2 separate regions of the Homo sapiens genome follow, and region 1 is linked to region 2. Evidence: fine-mapped QTL for protein levels in blood plasma. A gene starts in region 2. The other region holds a variant in brackets. All regions are shown on one strand. Distances are from middle to middle.

Region 1 (5,000 bases), 35 kb before region 2:
AGGCCTTATCCCAGTAAGACTGGTATCCTAATAAAAGGAGGAAAAGAGGAGAATCACACAGAGGGTCACAGCCAGGAATGCAGCACAGAGAAAAGGCCACGTGAGGACACAGCAAGAAGGCGGCCATCTGCATGCCAAGGAGAGAGGCCTCAGGAGAAACAAAACCTGCTCACACCTTGATCCTGGACTTCCAGCCTCCAGAACCAGAGAAAATACATTTCTATGGTCTAGCCACCTAGTCTGTGCTATTTTGTTATGGCAGCCCAAGCAAACGAATACAGATTTTTAAAAATTTACCCATTGTAAGCGTACAGTACAATGATGTTTAGTAAATTTATAGAATTGCACAACCATCACCAAGATCCAATTTTAGAAAGTTCCATTGAGCTGCCTGGTCTGCAGTCAGTCCATTCCCACTCCCAGCTCTAGGCAACCACTGATCTGCTCTGTGTCTCCATAGATTTTCCTTTTCTAGAAATTTCATATAGATGGAATCATACAATATATGGTCTTTCAGGTCTGACTTCTTTTATTTAGCATAGTTTTTTTTCAGGTTCATCCATATTGCAGCTTGTATCAGTCATTTGTTCCTTTTTACTGTCGAAAAGTATTTCATTGTGTGAGATAAATTACATTTTTTGTATCCCTCACGAGTTGATGTACATGTGAATTGTTTCCAGTTTGGGGCTACTATGAATTATACCCTAAGAACATTTGTATATATGTCTTTGTATGAAAATCATTCTCTTTGCAGATTCCATGTTCATTTAGATCAGATTATACATGTTTTTAATTATTTTTAAATGAATTTTTAAATTACAAAATATAATCAGAAAGAAATGCCAGCTTCCTGGGAATAGGGATATTGTTTTGTTCACTGTTGTGTTTCCAGTCCCTAAGTGTCTGACTGAAAAAAAAAACAAAACTGTGGAATAAATGTATGTAACACACCAAATAACTGTATTCAGAGTCTCACTCTGTCATCCAAGCTGGAGTGCAGTGGCACTATCAGGGCTCACTGCTGCTTAGACCTCCTAGGCTCAAGTGATCCTCTCATTCCAGCTCCCAAGTAGCTGGGACTATAGGCATGCCCCACCATGCCCAGGTAATTTTTTGTGTGCATGCAGATGGGGTCTTGCTTTGTTGCCTAGGCTGGGCTGGTCTCAAACACCTGGACTCAAGTGATCCTCCCGCCTCAGCCTCCCAAAGTGCTGGATTACAAGTATGAGCCACCATCGCCAGCCCGTAAGTGTGTATTTGCTTGATTTATATAAAAAGTAAATTAGCTGGGCATGGAGCTCATGCCTGTAATCCCAGCACTTTGGGAGGCCAAGGTAGGAGGACAGCTTGAGCCCAGGAGTTCAAGATGAACCTGAGCAGCATGGCAAAACCCATTTCTACAAAAAATTAGCTGGGCGTGGTGGCACACACCTGTAGTTCCAACTTCCTGGGGTGCTGAGGCCGGAGGATTGCTTGAGCCCTGGAGGTCGAGGCTGCAGGGAGCTGCTATTGTGCCACTGTATTTGAGCTGGGGCAACAGAGTGAGATTCTGTCTCAAAAAAAAAAGTAAATTAATTAAAAATGTAATAAACAGTGCTTCCTGATTTTTATGGAGGTTGACTTTGTGTGTGCATTGGAGTTTTGAAGGTGCCATCTCAGGCAATTCACCCCCGAGGAGGGAAACATGGTTCTCAGTGCAGCTGGGAGAGACCACAGGGCCAATGAAGGGCCATTTTCAAGTTGAGAGTTATGAGGCTGACTTGCACTGATGGGAATGAACCAGCAGGGAGAGGAGAAAGAGGGTGGTTTCCATAAGCAAAGTCATTGAGAAGCTCCAAAGAGATGGAGTGTGGAGCAGTGCACTCACCCTGTGGTCCAAGAACCTACAGCATCAGCCTCAACCAGGAGCTTATCGGAAATGCAAGTCTTGAGGCCCCACACCATACCTACTGATCCTACACCTCACGGGTGGGCCCAGTGCTGTGTTTTAACAAGCTCTCCATGTGACTCTCACACATGCTAAAGTTTGAATAGCACCGACCATCCTAGGGCACGACTGAAAAGGTGGTCTAGGGCGGATATTCTACTAGCAGGTCCTTGGGAGTTGACCAAACTGTCACTTGTCCCTGAACCCAGCTATTGAAAGGACCTAGAGGAACATATTCAAACCACATTCCTGGGTATCCCAACTCAATGAATTCCATGTCTGCTCACCTGCGTCATTCTTGGGCACAGTCCCCTTATGAACTTTCTTA[T/C]ACAGAATCACACAGAGGGTCACGATCAGAAGGAACAGCAGCACCTGATTAACTGAAATAGAAATGGAAACACATTAACATTGAACCTATGAACCTGAAATCACGTGACAAAGTTTAGAATGGTAGTGCGAGTAGGTGCCTTCCATGACACAGAGGAGTGGTATCTGAGACCTTTCTATAAGCAGACAGCATATAGAATAAAGAATTAACCTGGCCAGGTGTGGTAGCTCATGCCTGTAATCCCAGTACTTTGGGAGGCCAAGGCAGGTGGATCACCTGAGCTCAGGAGTTTCGAGACCAGCCTGGGCAACAGAGTGGGACCCTGTCTCAACAACAACAAACACACACACACACACACACACACACACACACACACACACACAAATTAGCTGGGCGTGGTGGCATGCACCTGTAGTCTCAGCTACTAAGGAGGCTGAGATAGGAGGATGGCTTGAGCCTGGGAGGTGGAGGCTGCAGTGAGCCAAAATTACTCCAGCCTGGGTGACAGAGCCAGACCCTGTCTCAAATACAAAAACAAACAAACAGAAAGAATTAACCTGGAACACTATTGTTGCTCAGGGGTCTTGCATCTTTACTGAATTTGTATATCAGTTCTAATAGTTTTTTGCTGGAGTCTTTAGAATTTTCCAAATATAAGATTATATTGGCCAGTTGTAGTGGCTCACACCTGTAATCCCAGCACTTTGGGAGGCTGAGGTGGGCAGATCACATGAGGCCAGGAGTTCAAGGCCAGCCTGGGCAATATGGTGAAACCCTATCTCTACTAAATTATACAAAAATTAGCTGGGCGTGATGGTGCATGCCTGTAATCCCAGCTATTTGGGAGGCTGAGGCATGAGAATTGCTTGAACCTGGGAGGTGGAGGTTGCAGTGAGCCAAGATCACACCACTGGGCAATAGAGCAAGACCTTCCTTCCAAAACAAAACAAAACAAAAACGTATCATCTGCAAACAGGATAATTTGAGTTCTTCCTTTCCAATTTGGATGCCCTTTATTTTTTTTGCTTGTCTGATTGCTCTAGCTAGGGCTTCCACTACTATGTTGAATAACAGTGGTGAAACGCAGCCATCCTTGTCGTGTTCCAGATGTAAGAGGAAAGGCTTTCAGTTTTTCCCCATTTAGTATGATACTAGCTGTGGGTCTGCCGTATGTGGCTTTTATTTTGTTGAATTTATGTGATTCTTCTTATGAGCCAGTAGTAATTATAAATACATGTTCTTAGCCATTATGACACAGCTGCTTTTCAGTTAATTCAACCCTTGGTCAAGGATGATGTGCAGGCCGGGTGTGGTGGCTCACACCTGTAATCCCAGCACTTTGGGAGGCCAAGGCAGGTGGATCACTGGAGGCCAGGAGTTTGAGACCAGCCTGGCCAACATAGCAAAACCCCATCTCTACTAAAAATACAAAAATTAGCCAGGTGTTGCGCATGCCTGTAGTCCCAGCTATTCAGGAGGTTGAGGCAAGAGAATCACTTAAACCTGGGAGGCAGAGGTTGCAGTGAGCCGAGATCATGCCACTGCACTCCAGTCTGGGTGACAAAGGGAGACTCTGTCAAAAAAGAAAGAAGGAGAGAAAGAAAGAAAGAAAGAGAGAGAGAGAGAAAGAAAAGAAAGAAAGAAAGAAAGGGAGAGAGAAAGAAAGAAAGAAAGAAAGAAAGAAAGAAAGAAAGAAAGAAAGAAAGAAAGAAAGAAAGAAAGAAGGAAGGAAGGAAGGAAGGAAGGAAGGAAGGAAAGAAAGAAAGAGAAAGAAAAGAAAGAAAGAAAGAAAGAAAGAAAGAAAGAAAGAAAGAAAGAAAGAAAGAAAGAAAAATAAAGAGAGAAAGAAAGAAAGGAAGAAAGAAAGAAATTCTTGCCCTGGTAAACAGAAGACCTCAATGCCTCCAAGCCTCCAGCTCTGTTTGTTCCAGTGATGTTGGCCCTTGAGATCTGTTGAGAAGTAGAGTGGTGTAAAACAGTGTTTTCTTGAGTATGGAACATATAGCACTGGTTGTGCATGAAATGACTGAGGAAGTTCATGTTCATAGCATTAATATTTAATCAGCATATGAGAAAGTCAATCTTTCTGATTTTATGTGCAGGAACACAACAAAAGCTACCCAGAGTTGAATCACATTCTCCTAATTGTATATGTGTTTAAAGCTACCTTTTTTTTTTAATGATAGGAAATCATTCTGTTTTCATTTGCAGTAAGGATAAAAACTTTCTATTATGAAGTACACTTATAAATTTTTAAAATTAGTCAAAGAAAACAAAATTGGTTTTGAGATGGAGTTTCACTCTTGTTGTCCAGGCTGGAGTGCAATGGCACAGCCTTGGCTCACTGCAACCTCTGCCTCCTGGATTCAAGCGATTCTCCTGCCTCAGCCTCCCGAGTAGCTGGGATTACAGGCCCCCACCACCATGCCTGGCTAATTTTTGTATTTTTAGTAGAGACAGGGTTTCACCATGTTGGCCAGGCTGATCTTGAACTTCTGACCACAAGTGATCCTCCCACCTTGGTCTCCCAAAGTGCTGGAATTACAGGCATGAGCCACTGTGCCTGGCCTAAAGAAAATATTAAGAAATGTTTAGGACAGAAGGAACACAGCTGATGAAAAATTGAGAAGATGGCATGTTGGCATGTGTAGTGCACACCTACCTAAAGTTTGGGAAAAGTTGGTAGAAGGGAAGAGGGTGTGAATTTGAAGTCAGACTCAAATCTCTTTTCTACCACCTCCTAGC
Region 2 (5,000 bases):
CCAAAAGAGGAACCAAAATGAAAACAAGTGTGTCCAGAATAGCACACCGCAGAGTGTGCTCCTAGAAATGTTAACCTACATTATGTGATAAGGTGGTTCAGCGATCAACTGTTTGGGAATCATTGCGTTAAACAACCTTAAGAGGATTTCTCTACTACAGGACTTCTCAGGACCTTTAAAATGCTATTATGCCTTGCGATCTCTAAGAGGGTAATATAGTTCACAGAGTTTCCCATGGGACTATGTTTTCTCAGAACTTTCTTTGGAAAATGCTGAAATTAAAAAGGATTTAGAATCATTTTCCTCGGGAACTAGAAATGAAAACTATGAGGGCTGTGCCTTAATGAACCTCACATTTTCTCAGCAAGGAAAGAGGAAGCACAAAGAAGAAATAATGAAAGACAGAATGGGAAATAAAAGAAAGAGAGGTGTCTGAAGGAAGAAAGGAAGAAAGCAAAGTGCTGGAGAGATGACATATTAGGGTATGAGGAACACTTGGACCACTGGACTGTCAGAGGGAACCATGGTCAAAAGCAGAGGTGTTGCCAAAAACAGGATGCATGATCACTTTTGTCACCACTGCCATCATCAGCACCATCAGAGAAGCTAACCTTTCCTGAGGCCTAACTACTTTGCAGGTCCTGTATTATGTCCTCTATAGACATTAGGTCATGTAATTTCCATTTTACAGATGAGGAACTAGGGTGCATGCAGTTAAACAATTCACCCGGAGTCGAGCTTAGAAGGTGTGTAAGTGGCAGCATGTAGATTCAGTCCTGTAAGCCTGACCCCAGAGCCTATGTTCTTACCACTGCATTGCACAGTCTACTTCCAAGTGCATTAAAGGGAGAACTGGAATTCCATTATGTAATATAGAAAGGATATTACACAGAAGTGCCACACCAGAACATTTGGAGGAAAAGGAAAAGACAAAAACCAACCAATATCACTTTGGATATTTGGCTGCACAGGGGCCAAACAACGAGAGGACTGATTTTTTTTTTCAAAGCACATCCAGACATTCAGATATCATCATGTTTTCTTTCTCTCACTCTCTCTCAGGTTTTTTTTTTTTTACTCTCATGTTAACTATCCTTCTTATTTCATAAATTATATACCAGGCTTGTCCAATGTGTGACACTTGCTTATAAAGTAAACATAAGATCTTTTTTAATGTTTAAAAAGCATTTTCAACCCAAACACCACGACTACTGTATTTACAATAAGCCTCACTTGGGTTTCCACAACGGCCAGTTCTTTCTGGGGGGATGGAGATCCTCAGAACAGCTTCCTAAGGCAGATTCTGAAAACATGAATCATGCTCAGTTAAATAATTTGTGGCTCAGGACATACCTTCATTAAATAATAGCATTCATCCACATCCTAACTGCTGATTTTTATGTTTAAAATCTGATACAAATAGTAAATTATCATATTTGTGGAGAGAAGGAGGAGAAACCCAGGTCTGGAAAAGCAGCCCAGGATGTGAAAAACATTGCACACTGGATTTGCTGGAAATGGCCGAAAAGGGTTCCGCTGGAATGCTACCAGTTCGGACTGGGAAGTTTCTGAAGGCAAAGTTTGTGTGGGGCAATCTGACACCTCTGATTTACTTTCTTGGGTCTGTAGCAGAATAAAGAACTGCTGCAGACCGGCCAGGATAAAACGGAACGACTGCACACTGCTCGTAAATTTCTCTATTTACCTGGTGAATGGTGAGGGTAGGGCTTTGGGCTCCTCGGTCCAGAAGAGCTGCAAGGCAGAGCGTTCAAATCGTGGCTGGCCCTGGGCTGCCGCCCTCACGCTGCTTCGGCTGCTTCTAAGATCCCATTGGAAGTCCCAAAGGGCTGGAGAGCCCCAAGGCCAATATTACGTTTCCAAAAGAATATTCCTCCCCGACCCGCACTCCCCTTTGCTTGCGTTGACTTCGGAACGTCTCGGGTTTCTTCCACCTCTGCGCGAAGCCGCTGGGAACCCAGGAGTTGCGCTGGCAGAGAGGGGCGGCCCCAGAAACCACTTCCAGATGTGCTCGGCTGGCCGGCTCGGATGCGCCAGACTTCCTCTGGCTAAGTGCAAAACATGCAAAAAACAACGCTGTTCTGGAGGAAAAGACACAAAACCAGAGAAGAGCAAATGCTTTCAGGGTGAATTTCTACCACACGTTGAGTCGAAGGCAAACTTTGAAAGAACACCAGTGAAAAATAAAGTTCATGCTGATTTTGAGAATCTTCATGGCCACTAGCTTCTCCTGAAATCTCCTAGTCATTGAAATGCTGTTGTCCCCAAATCAAAACCCAGGTAACAACTGTGGTCTTCTTCTACCAAGGCAATAATGACAAAAGTTTCAGGATGGAGTGTTTTTGTGCCTGAACAAAAGAGGAATCAGAGAGGAATGAGGCAGGGAGCTGGGAGCTGACCTCAACAGCAATCTGCGCTGTTCTGTATCTCTGCGGTGTGTTCTCAAACCCGGGAGATGGTGCCAGCACTTTGTCTGGGATCACAGAATTTATTTCTGCAATGGCTCCTCTTCCTATTTCCTATAAGGATATAAGGATCTCCCTGCTCACTGTCTCTTTCTAAAGTGGTGCTCTCCAACAGAAATAAAATGCAAGCCACCCTGTAATTTTACTTTTTTTTTTTTTTGAGACGGAGTCTCCCTCTGTCTCCCAGGCTAGAGTGCAGTGATGAGATCTCGGCTCACTGCAACCTCCGCCTCCCCGGTTCAAATGATTCTCCTGCCTCAGCCTCCCGAGTAGCTGGGATTACAGGCGCCCACCACTACACCCAGCTAATTTTTGTATTTTTAGTAGAGATGGGGTTTCGCCATGTTGGCCAGGCTGGTCTCAAACACCTGACCTCAGGTGATCCGCCGCCTCAGCCTCCCAAAGTGCTGGGATTACAGGCGTGAGCCACCTCATCCGGCCAATTTTACTTTTTTTTTTTTTTAAAGAGACAGGGTCTTGCTCTGTTACTCAGGCTGGAGTGCAGTGGCGTGATCACAGCTCACTGCAGCCGTGAACTTCAAGGTTCAGGCGATCCTCCCGTCTCAGCCTCCTGAGTAGCTGAGATTACAGGTGCACATCACTACACCTGGCTATAATTTAAAATTTTCTAGTAGCCACATTAAGAAAAAAGTACAAAGAGGTAAAATTTATCTTAATGATATATTTTACTTTACCCAATATATACAAGATGTTATCATTTCAACACATAATATAAAACATTATTAAGAAGATGTTTTATGTTCTTTGTTTTGTCTTTAAATTTAATTTGTTTTGATACATATTCATGTAATAATTGTACATATTCATGGGGTACATATTGATGTTTCAATATACAATGTATAGTGATCAGAACACTGTAATTAGCATATCTATAATCTCAAATATTGATGCTTATGTTGGAAACATTCAATATCCTCCTTCTAGCTCTTTGAAGCTATATATTATTGTTAACTATGGCCATACTACACTAGAACCTATTCCTCCTATCTAGCTATAATTTTATATCCTTTAACAAATCTCTCCCTATCTCTCCCTTCCTCCTGCCCTTCCCAGTGTTTTTTTTTTAACTAAGTCTTTGAAATTTGGTGTGTGTTGTACACTTGGAGCACATCTCAATTCAAACACTAAATTTAAGCAGAAACACTTCACATATATTTAGATTTTATAAATACCATTTAAAAAGTAGATTCATTTAAGGTAATGGATATCCCAGTTACACTGATTTGATCTTTACAAATTATATGAATGTATTAATATTAAATGTTTGAATACACACTCAAAATATGTATATCTATTATGTTATCAATAAAAAAATAGAAAAAAACACTGGGAACAAAAGTAAATTCACGAGTCCAGGTTGGTCCAAATGTACTTAAAAGTTTTCCAGTAATTGAATAGAGTATCAGTTTTTCAATTAAAATTAGTTACAGTTAAATAAAATTAAAAATTCAGTTCCTCAGTTGCACTAGTCACATTTAAGTACTCAGTAGTCAATGTGGCTAGTGGCTACTATATTGAGCAGTTCCATTCTAAAGGATTTAGTAGGGGTTTTCTTAGATATGAACTTTGAAGGTGGGAGGATCCTGAATATCTTCCATGTATATAGAACTTTGAATATAGCCAAAGCATTTTCATATCTTCTATTTCTTTTTAGCCACACAACATTTCTGGTAGGTAAGTTGAACAGATGTTATTTGCCCCAATTTACAGATGAGCAAACTGAGGCTTTGAGCAAATTAAAGCCCAAGTTCCCAAAGCAAGTTAGCGATGAAGCCAGGATTGGAATTCTTATTCAGCACTTCTTAAGTGTTTCCTTCTTGAGGCATATTTCAAATACTAGGATCTGCGGCTGCAACAGTAGCGTTAAGTGGCATGGCATCCACATTGGTCATCCTTCAGCATCAAATTTGCTGCCTGTGTAGAATTATTGACTGCCCTGTGTTCCCTTATATGCCCCTATTCTAAATCCCTCACACAATCCAGCAGGTGTGTCCTTTCTCCTGGAGAGGCTTGACATGATGCCCCTCCTCTTCTCTCTTTACCCCCAGCATCTTGTACCTTATTTTATGTATTAATTATTATTATTATTATGTAGAGACGTGTCTTGCTATGTTGCCCAGGCTGGACTTGAATTCCTGGGCCTTTCTCCTCAGCCTCCCGAGTAGCTGGGACTGTAGTCATGCACCACCATGCTCAGCAAGTTGTACCTTATTTTAAAGCACAATTCCATTCAAACATTTAGCTAAATGTTTTTAGCTAAAACGTTGGTCACCTCTGGGAAGTCATAAGGTTCAGGGGCAGCACAATATCCTATGCTCTAAATACTCACTGCACACACATGAGCGAAAATAAGAACCACTTCTGGCTCAGGGTTTCCCACCGCCCTTCCAGAATTATGTGCTGTTAACTTGCAGCAGGCTAGTCCCTCAGACATGTCCCAGGCATCATGTGGACAGCAGCCTGAGCTGACACCTGCCCAGTGCAATTTCCTTCACA

Alleles and levels. Positions count from the first base shown, and alleles are read on the strand shown. Strength reflects both the effect of a copy and how common the allele is.
For the plasma level of the protein whose gene starts at base 1,998 in region 2, T is the low allele of the variant in region 1 and C is the other (moderate association).

The links. PIP is the chance, under the fine-mapping model, that this variant and not a neighbour inherited with it causes the effect. Protein levels are from antibody-based Olink assays in UK Biobank. Linkage for the fine-mapping came from a reference panel and not from the study's own genotypes, which makes the PIPs less certain.
Region 1: its variant is fine-mapped to the plasma level of the GLT8D2 protein (UK Biobank, PIP above 0.99). The variant lies in the coding sequence of GLT8D2. If it changes the protein, the assay may bind it differently, which can mimic a change of level.

What each region holds. Positions count from the first base shown.
Region 1 is chr12:104,012,799-104,017,798 of GRCh38, forward strand. It overlaps GLT8D2 (glycosyltransferase 8 domain containing 2), which reads right to left. Exons shown (of 11, transcript NM_001384711.1): 4 at 2,215-2,307. Among named protein-coding and RNA genes, the nearest start is that of GLT8D2, 35 kb to the right of the region's middle. RefSeq lists a silencer at 1,569-1,791. The variant T/C (reference allele first, on the strand shown) is at 2,256.
Region 2 is chr12:104,048,190-104,053,189 of GRCh38, forward strand. GLT8D2 (glycosyltransferase 8 domain containing 2) reads right to left here and starts at 1,998. Exons shown (of 11, transcript NM_001384711.1): 1 at 1,706-1,998.